Homo sapiens: one gene and its partners. The protein of the gene in region 1 purifies or fractionates together with the protein of each later gene. This does not show direct contact. Each region holds a gene or a part of one and is shown on either strand. Other genes may lie near its edges. The genes, in order: TAS2R31, MAP1A and MTMR4.

What was found.
Region 2: the proteins of TAS2R31 (region 1) and MAP1A purify together in Homo sapiens (affinity purification with mass spectrometry; one large-scale study listed by BioGRID and IntAct). This does not show direct contact.
Region 3: the proteins of TAS2R31 (region 1) and MTMR4 purify together in Homo sapiens (affinity purification with mass spectrometry; one large-scale study listed by BioGRID and IntAct). This does not show direct contact.

Annotation. Positions count from the first base shown.
Region 1 is NC_000012.12:11,029,729-11,032,813, forward strand, and holds TAS2R31 (taste receptor type 2 member 31), read right to left. Parts: upstream 1,680-3,085; 5' UTR 1,608-1,679; coding exon 678-1,607; 3' UTR 659-677; downstream 1-658. UniProt on the Homo sapiens protein: Receptor that may play a role in the perception of bitterness and is gustducin-linked. May play a role in sensing the chemical composition of the gastrointestinal content.
Region 2 is NC_000015.10:43,527,537-43,529,946, reverse strand, and holds part of MAP1A (microtubule-associated protein 1A), read right to left. Parts: coding exon 439-2,410; intron 298-438; coding exon 77-297; intron 1-76. UniProt on the Homo sapiens protein: Structural protein involved in the filamentous cross-bridging between microtubules and other skeletal elements.
Region 3 is NC_000017.11:58,508,049-58,511,706, forward strand, and holds part of MTMR4 (phosphatidylinositol-3,5-bisphosphate 3-phosphatase MTMR4), read right to left. Parts: intron 3,464-3,658; coding exon 3,381-3,463; intron 794-3,380; coding exon 633-793; intron 517-632; coding exon 420-516; intron 227-419; coding exon 113-226; intron 1-112. UniProt on the Homo sapiens protein: Lipid phosphatase that specifically dephosphorylates the D-3 position of phosphatidylinositol 3-phosphate and phosphatidylinositol 3,5-bisphosphate, generating phosphatidylinositol and phosphatidylinositol 5-phosphate.

The DNA of each region.
Region 1 (3,085 bases):
AATCTAATATTCCTCAGTACCGCTTATGGTAGACATACATTAAATTTACTCTGCATATGCTTCTCACTCAAATTCTACTGTGTGCATTCTTTTCTAACAATAATTCTCATTGCTTTTTACTAAACATAAAATAGAAATTCATAATGGAATAAAACACCAAAGATACATCCTCATTATTGATTTAGAATTGAATGACTTTACCATCCAATAAATTCGAGGTTCAAGCAATGAATTCTAAGCACAATGTGGTGTATTCCTGTGGTTCAAATAACAATAGAAAAGAGCAATATTTATCCTGGGATAAGCTGTTACTTCTTAATAATTATAAATAGACATCATAAATTCTACAAATGAAATATAAAATACATGAATGAAATATACATGGCTTCAAAATTCTAAGAAATTTTTGTCATATTTTGTATAATTTGGCAGTTTGTATGAAAAAAACAGAAAAGAGCATGTTATTGTCAATGTTCTTAAGTTTTCATACACACATAAACACACACATATATATATTTTTTTTTCTAGACTAATATTAGGTCAAAGGCTTTTCTAGGTATACGTTGGGAAATTATTCATACACATACAGTATAGAAAAACCAGTAAGAAATATAAAATGTTTCATACACCACCAGTTTGTTTTCTGCTAGAAGACACACAATGCCCCTCTCATGAATCTATGGAGATGAAGGCTTCTCTCCTTTCACCCAGTACCTCACTTGCCGCAAAACTGAAAGAAAAGTCTGCTTTAGCTTCTTGTTTCCCCAAATCAGGATGAATGGGTGGATTGAAGGATAGCTGAATCTAATAGCTTTGCAGAACATGAAGACAGGTTTGTTTTCCAGACTCCCAAAACTCCAAACTGATATCATTATGGACAGAAAGTAAACGGCACATAACAAGAGGAAAAAGATCACAGTTTGCAAAGCTTTTATGTGGACCTTGGTGCTGGGATCTTGAGATCCTTTACCATGGAGCTGCATCTTCTTGAGATGTTTACACAGAGAACAGATTAACAGCAAAAAACATAGCAGGGTCAGAGTGAAGGGCACTAAGTTTCCTAGCGTGGTTACAGTCGCATCTGAAAGGTACACTGCACTCCTCAATTTGATCTTCCAAGTCAAGTTTCCTTCATATTCTTTTGTCCGTACAATCTCTTTCATGTTTATCACAAAAAGTTGACAAGCCAAAAATAGTAAAGGCCCCAACAGCATCACCAGAATGACACTCTTAACTCTCCTCTTTAAGTGAAGAAAAATAAGGTTGGAGAAATTGGCAATCTTGAGCAAATAAAATATGCTGAGGCTAGTAGCAAGCCAGTTGCTGAAATGGCCGGTTACTGCCCAGACATTATAAGCAGTAGTTCTTACTTCTACACTATAAAAAGCTGGATTAAACACAGTTGAATACCAATTTAATAATAATACCCAGAGCAAACCAACTCTGGAGACCGCCAGAGCAGTGAGAATCTGGTCAGCAAAAGAGATCTTTTGTCTCTTGACCCGCTCAATGGAATTTACCAATGCTATGAAGCCATTAGCAAAATTTCCAATAACAAATAGAACCACTACCACACTGGAAAAAATGATGGGTATAAAAGTTGTCATGTCTGAACAGACAAAAAAAAATTGTTTTAATGCTGGTGTTGTGTCCGGAGTTGGTTCCTGCAGGTGGGTTCGTGGTCTCCCTGACTTCAAAAATGGAGCCACCGACCTTCACGGTGAGTGTTGCTGCTCTTAAAGATGGCATGGACCCAAAGAGTGAGCAACAGCAAGGTTTATTGAGAAGAGAGAAAGGACAAAGCTTCCACCGGGAGGAAGGCGACCCAGGCAGGTTGCTGCTGCTGGCTGAAGCCATGAGCTTTTATTCCCTTATTTGTCCCCTCCCATTTTCCTTTTTTTGTCCTATCAGAGTGCCCTTTTTTCAATCCTCCCTGCCATTGGCTACTTTTAGGATCCTGTTGCTTGGTGTATTTTAGAGCGATTGGTGCATTTTACAATCCTCTTGCTAGCTACAGAGCGCTGATTGCTGTGGTTTTACAGTGCACTGTTTGGTGCATTTTACAATCCCCTTGCTAGCTACAGAAACGTTCTCCAAGTCCCCACTCGATTCAGAAAGTATAGCTCGCTTCATCTCTCAATGTAATATAACTGGGTGTGATTGCTTGAATATCCTGACCTTAAATTCTATATGCACCTGATTTGTGAATGTGCTGTGACATTCTTTTTACTTTTAATTGTTGTGACCAGTGTCAAGCCAGAAATAACCATGGCATGTTAACTGATGAGTTCAATGATCTCTTTATGGAAAACATTCTTATTTTCAAACAACTCAAATTAACTCATTCATTCACTGTCTGTTCTTGTTATAGGCTGGAATTATTCACACTGAAATTGACGTGAAACCTGAATCCTCATTTGCTAGTACGCAAATAGGGACATATTCACTTTCAGTGTTTGCAATTTTTCCTTGTGTAACCTCTCCATCATTTATCTTTAGTGACTTCAGTTGTTAGGGAAGTTTTGTAACTCAATATATATATCATATAGTAAATATCTAAATTCTCAAAGGGAGCTTGGTCATAACTAAGATCATCACCAATGCGGACTTTTTTAAATCACAGATTTAAATACACAGAATCCTAACTGCTTTTATCAAAGGCATCTCAGATTTTCTTGAGAACCACAGGCAGGCCACTACTCCATAAGATCTGGTTGCTGCTAACACTTTCGTATAACTTCATTATTCACAAACTCATAAATATGCACACAAATATACACATGTGCACACCACTTATGAATGGAACAAATTATTTTCTTGTAATTTCCAAAATAAAAAATGAGTTTCCAAGAGGCTGTGCAGATGAAATTAGTCCTATTTTCCCACTCAGGGTTTTCAGCCCATGAATAATATTTATTTATCAAAAACATTATCTCTAATTCTTAGGACTTGGTAAAGTTTCTCTCAAGTCTAATGTTTAAATATTATTATAAAAAATATTTAGCAATTTTATAAGAATTCCTCAGTACCAGACCCTTTGATATATAATCCTGCAGTATCCTATCACAGGAAGACTGACTACCTT
Region 2 (2,410 bases), on another chromosome or scaffold:
AATAGGGACTGTGTTCCACTACTGCCTCTGAGTGAGCGTTGACCAGACTACTTCCTTGGTGTCCTTTGCTACTCACCTGAAGATTCTCCCCCCACTGGGCCTTGCCCTCCAGCAGGGCATCCAGCACAGCCCGGCTTGGCTCGCCATTGGCAGGGTCATTCCCACTGACCACATAGTAGGATGCACGCACTCGACGGAAGAAGTCAAGGTCAGCAGTCTTGCCACTGCAATGATTCGGGATGTAGGCGAGATCCACATATACAGGGGCACCAGAGCTGCCCTTGGAACTCAAGGCCACTGTAGAGACAAGCCAGGATTCATTGTAGAGGAAAAGTAGAACCCTTTTGGCAACCTTCCCCTCTGTCCCACTCCTGAAGTCTGACCAGCCCACACCCAGCCCTAACCCACACTCTCTGCCAAGTTTCATGATATACTTACTTGGTCCTGCCTTGAGTCCATTGACTAGGCCTTTGGACATGGGGCTGTGTCCATCCTTTTCCTCTGCTGGGGTGACCTGGCTTGTGGTGCTGCGTGGTCGAGGTGGGGCCCGGGATGCTCGATCTGCAGGCCCTTTACCAGGGGTGGGTGAGCGTTTTCCCCGAAGATCCAGACGCCGTGCAGGGGACGCTGGCTTGGCCTTGCCTGGGGCCCTGCGCCCTACTCGCCCCTGAACCTTTTCCTTCTCCCGTAGCCTCTCTACTCTCCCAGACTCTGAGCTGAGCCCCTCGGGGTCAGCCATGCACACATCAGGGCGGGGAGGGGATGGGCGGGGGTCTGGCTGTGGGAGAGGAGGTGGGTCATGGCCAGGCCTGGGGTGGTGAGTACCACTGACACCCCCAGCTTTGTCCACAGGTAGGAAGTCTCCATCTTCATCTGAGTCGAGGGCTGCCTCAGCTGTGATGGACGGACACTCCTCAGTTTCTGGCGGGACATCAGAATCTGACTGTGAGGAGCCTGAGTCACTGGCTGATGTAGGGGGTGTCTCATCAGTCACAGGGCATGGGCCCCCAGTGGTCCCTGGCCCCCCTACCCGGCGCCGCCCCCCTCTTCCTACTAGCCGAACTTCCTCAGTTGAGAGGTCCCTATCATCTATGGATGGGGGCAGAGGTGGGTTCAGGAAGGATGGGGAGAGCTCCCCACGATGGGGCCGAGGCTCAGTGGCACATCCCTGGGGCCCAGCTTCGACCTCAGGAGAGGCACTGCTGGGTGGGCCCCCGGAGCCCCCTGCAGGACACACTGGCTGCTCAGGGGAGAGCAATGTGTCAGGCCGGGAGCTCCTCTCAGCTCCTTCAGGCCAGGCCCCACGTTCCCAGGCAGGGCAAGCCGCAGCCTCTTCATTTTCAGCCTTGGCTGGGGCAGGGCCTGGGGGGTTAGGGCTGGTTTCAGTTGGGCCATTGGCTGCACAATCCTCAGAGGGAACCTGGAAGGGGCTTGGCTTCTCCGTGGCTGCCTCTGAGCACTCCAGGTGGCACGGCAGGATGCCATCACCCATGTCTCCAGGCAGGCTTGGAGCTGGAGCTAGGGCCAAGTCCAGTGAAGCTGGGGGTGCTGGGCTCAGAGGAGTGAGGTCCCAGAGGCTGTGGGCAGCTGGTTCCATTCCTGGGTCCAGCTCTCCAGACTCCTGTTCTGCAGCCTCAAGGCTTGGAGAGAAGCGCTCCGCCACACTTGAAATCACAGGCGTGGTAGCCTCAGAGGAGGAGCCCTCAGACAGGGCTGGTGAGGCAGGTCGTGGCAGATTGGAGAGGAGAGGGGCCCCAGGAGAACTGGGTGATGGGAGCTGGGGCAGTGAGGAATCCAGGCTGGGGGCCTTGGTCACTTCCAGGTATTCATCATGCCGGGTTCTGGTGGGGGGTCCTGGAGCCAGAGCCAGAGCTCGATCCCCAGAGAAGGCAAGGGAGCCACAGGGTGCCGAGCGGGGTTCAGCTGGAGAGGGCAGCTGTGGGGGAGCTGGCTGCAATGAGGAGAAGCCAAAGGCTGAAGCAGGGAAGTCCAGACTGGGTCGGGCAGGCCCCAGGTGTGAGTCCAAGGGAGGGCTAACATGTGCCTCAGTTTCTGGCCATAATGTGGGGGACCCCATAGGAATGGGGTGAGGAGGACTTGGGGATTGGGCCTCTTTTTCTGGCTGTTCCCGAGCCCCCTTCTCCAGTTCTGAGTCACTAGTGCTGTCATCCCAGTGACTCCGGCCTGATTCCTTGGGGGATGGGGACCTCCTATCTGGGCTGCAGCTCAGGATGTTACCATTAAGAGGGGGGCTTGGGCCTTTGCTCAGGATAGGAGCACGGGGGGGAACTGCAGGTGGGGTGAGGCTGGGCTCCATACTTGGCCCTGGCTCTGGCCTTGGGGGTACAGTGGGTCCTGCCAGGGCTGCATAGCTGAAGGTTGGAGTGTCAGACTGGAGGCTCTTGGGTGA
Region 3 (3,658 bases), on another chromosome or scaffold:
TCCCCATAGAGTGTCAATTCTCAGTCAACCAGGTTACCCAAAATCTCCAATTTTGACTCTTTCCTTGTTGCATAAGAAATGGCCTCCCTACTTCCCAGCCCCACTGCCTCACCTATACACAACCACGGGAATCCGCTTCCAGGAGCGGAAGGAAGCCACGTTCTCCAGCTCTTTGTCAGTGATCCACACAGGAACCAGCAGCTTCTGGGGGTAACTGGGGCACAATCTGAGAAGAGACCAGGTGGGGGTCACTGCACTGGGTCTAAAACATGTGATGACAGGATCCCTGGGGATGGCTTTGTGGGAAGAGAAACCATGAGCCTTCCTCCCTCTCAGACTCAGAAGCTGTGCCCACCACACTTTATCCAAACACGGAAGTAGTTTGGTGTGGAAGGTGTTTTGGTCCCCAACCCTCTCACTTGTAGTTGCTGTTGATGTGTGAGACTCTCCAGACGTTCTGCAGGTCAAAGCCCATCCTTGCAAGCTCCGCCTCCTGTCGACAACGTATGTGCTCACCTGCAACAGAGCCCCCACGATGGTTAGCTTCCCAGAGCACCAATGTGCAGGAGTGGAGGAGGGATGAGAACTAAGGGGTAAGAAGCAGCCTCCCAAAGAAAATAGACTGGCCTCACCTGGCTGACATAGGTGAGTGTGCTGGTCCTCCTCGGTCAGCCCCAGGCACCAGGCATGGTAGGCAAAGGCAAAGAGGTCTTCAGGCTTGGCAGGTCTTGCTGTGGCTCGGCTTAGCCGTGAGAGCCACTCTTGGCACTGCTTAAAAGTGGAGAAGTGGCACCTGCCAGGCAAGAAGCCACAGGCCTAGGTGAGGCAAAGTGCAGTTGTGCCATGGGGCTATCAGGGCCAAAAACACAGCCACAGGAAGGCTGTGAGGAGAGAAGGCTGCAAAGCAAGAGGTAAAGCAGTGGGGACCCAGGGTGGGGGGACGAGGGACACTGGCCAACACCCAACAGAAGTTGTCTCTTGTGATAATTCTCTTCCCAAGAACTCCTGTGTTTGAGGCATACTTATCCTCTCGAATGGGGCGCTACTGTTTCTCGTATCAAATCTAAATGCTACCATGTGGCCCTGAACGTCTGCACTCCTTGTCCCTACCCTAATGGACCAGTGTTATCTCCCATGACTCCCTAACTCAAACCTTCTGCTTCAGGCGGGAAGTTCTGCTCACATCCTTCCCATCTCCTTGGTTTATCTTCTGCTTGATAATGTCTCCTCTCTGCCTAGCCACATCCTACTGATGCTTTGAAGATAGTTTCAGTCTCACCTCTTCCTTGAAGCCTTCCCAGCCTACTCTATTCCAGAAACTCCTTCCTCTCTTGATTCTTAATGTGCTTGGAATATATATATATACCTTTTTTTTTTTTTTTGAGAGAGGGTCTTGCTCTTGCTCTGTCACCCAGGCTGGAGTGTAGTGGCACGATCACAGCTCCCTGCAGCCTCGACCTCCTGGGCTCAGGCAATCCTCACAAATCAGTCCCCTGAGTAGCTGAGACCATAATTGTGCACCACCACGTCTGGCTAACTTTTTAAATTCTTCATAGAGACAGGGTCTCTCTATGTTGTCCAGGCTGATCTTGAACTCCTGGGCTCAAGCGATCCTCCTCCCTCGGCCTCCCAAAGTACTAGGATTACAGGTATGTGCCACTGTGCCTGGCCTACTTGGAGTACTAAGCAACACATTTTCCCATAGCATATTGCCACATGTTAAATCTTCTTCCAGCAGCTAGAGTTTAGCCTCCTTGAAGGGAAGGGCAATGTGAATGCTCCTTCTGAATGCCCCACAGACCTGAGCACATGGTAGGCTCTAAAGTAGGTATCCTTTTAATAAACCTTGGAGTCATCCAGATTCCTCTTTCTTTCACTTCAAATCTGTCAGCAAATCTTCTCATCTCCACCTTCAAAATACACCCAGAATCTGAATGCTTCTCACCGCTTTGGCTGCTACCACCTCAGACAGGCCACCATGATCTCTCATCTGGGTAACTGCAATAGCTTCCTAACTAGTCTCCCAGTTTTTGCTTTTGCTCTTGCCCCCATTCTCTTTCATCTAGTCTCAATATAGCAGCCAGTGTGATTCTATGAAACATTAATCAGATCACATCACTCCTTTGCTCAAAATCCTCCAGTGGTTTCTCAGTTCCCTCAAAGTAAAAGCCAGTCTTCATGACAGCCAAAGTGTCTGACACCCGGCTTTGTTCTCAGGTCATATAACCCACTACCCTCACCCACACGTGCTCTACTCCAACAACACCAGCCTCCCTGCCAGTCTCCCAATATGCAGGCACACACCCACCTCAAGGCCTTTGCACTTGCCGTTCTCTGTCTCTGGCACACTCTTCCACCAAATAGCCACATGGCCACTTTCTTCAAGTCTTGACTCGACTGCCACCTTTTCGGTGCAGCTTCTCTGATCACTTTTGTTTTTTTGAGACAGGGTCTCACTCTGTCATCCAGGCTGGAGTGCAGTGGTGTAATCACAGCTCACTGCAGCCTCGACTTCTCAGGCTCAAGAGGTCCTCCTATCTCAGCCTCTTGAGTAGCTGGGACTACAGGCATGCATCACCACGCCTGGCTAATTTTTTATATTTTTAGTAGAGATGGGGTCTCGTCCTGTTGCCCAAGCTGATCTTGAACTCCTAAGCTGAAGCGATCTCCCCACGCATCACCACACCTGGCTAATTTTTTCTATTTTTAGTAGAGATGGGGTCTCGCTATGTTGCCCAGGCTGATCTTGAACTCCTAAGCTGAAGGGATCTTCCCACCTTGGCCACCCGAAGTGCTGGTATTACAGGCGTGAACCACCGTGCCCAGCCTGATTGTTTTACAATCTTCACCCTCATAGCACTCCTTATTCCCTTTCCCTGCTTTATTTTTTTCCTTTACACTTACTATCATTTCACAAATTTTACTTATTACTTACGGTTGGTATCTCCTCATTGGAATGTAAGCTCTCTGAGGCGGCAAAATTTTGTCTATTTGTTCCCTGCTGTATCCCCAGGGCTTAAAACAGGCTGGCATTGAGTAGGGTACTCAATACATGTATATCAAATGAATAAATAAATAAACCAACAATAATATGAGTGCTCTGTGCCAGATATTGTCCTCGGTGCTTTCATACACATACACATTATCTCACTTAATCCTTACGATGACTCCATGAACTAGGCATTACCCCCATTTTTTCAGGTCAAGATCCTATGGGTCAGTAAACTGACCTCCCAACCCAGAACATGGTCTTCACCTTTTCTTCCAACTGGGGAAAGTGAGGCAGGATCTTTCCTCTCTTGCACCAGAGAAACCCTGCAGCACAGAGAACTGGACAAGACTAGGGCCAGGGGACCTGAGTGAGGCTCCGTTGTTCTCACCTCACCACTTTGGAGTCCTTGCAGGAAATGTGCAACTGGAACATATCACGGCTCTCCACACTGTCAATCATCCGGAGGGGGACCTGTAGAGGAAGGGCAAACTGAAGCTCAGACTCCCCACTGGGTACCACTCCTCACCCTCACCCTAGCGTAGGCACTAATGTATCAATAGCAGGAAGGAAACCAACATTTACTGAGGGTCTGTTAAGCACCTGGTAACTGTACGGAGTCCTCTGCATATGTGATCCCAATTAATGATCCCAATAACGTTGCACAGC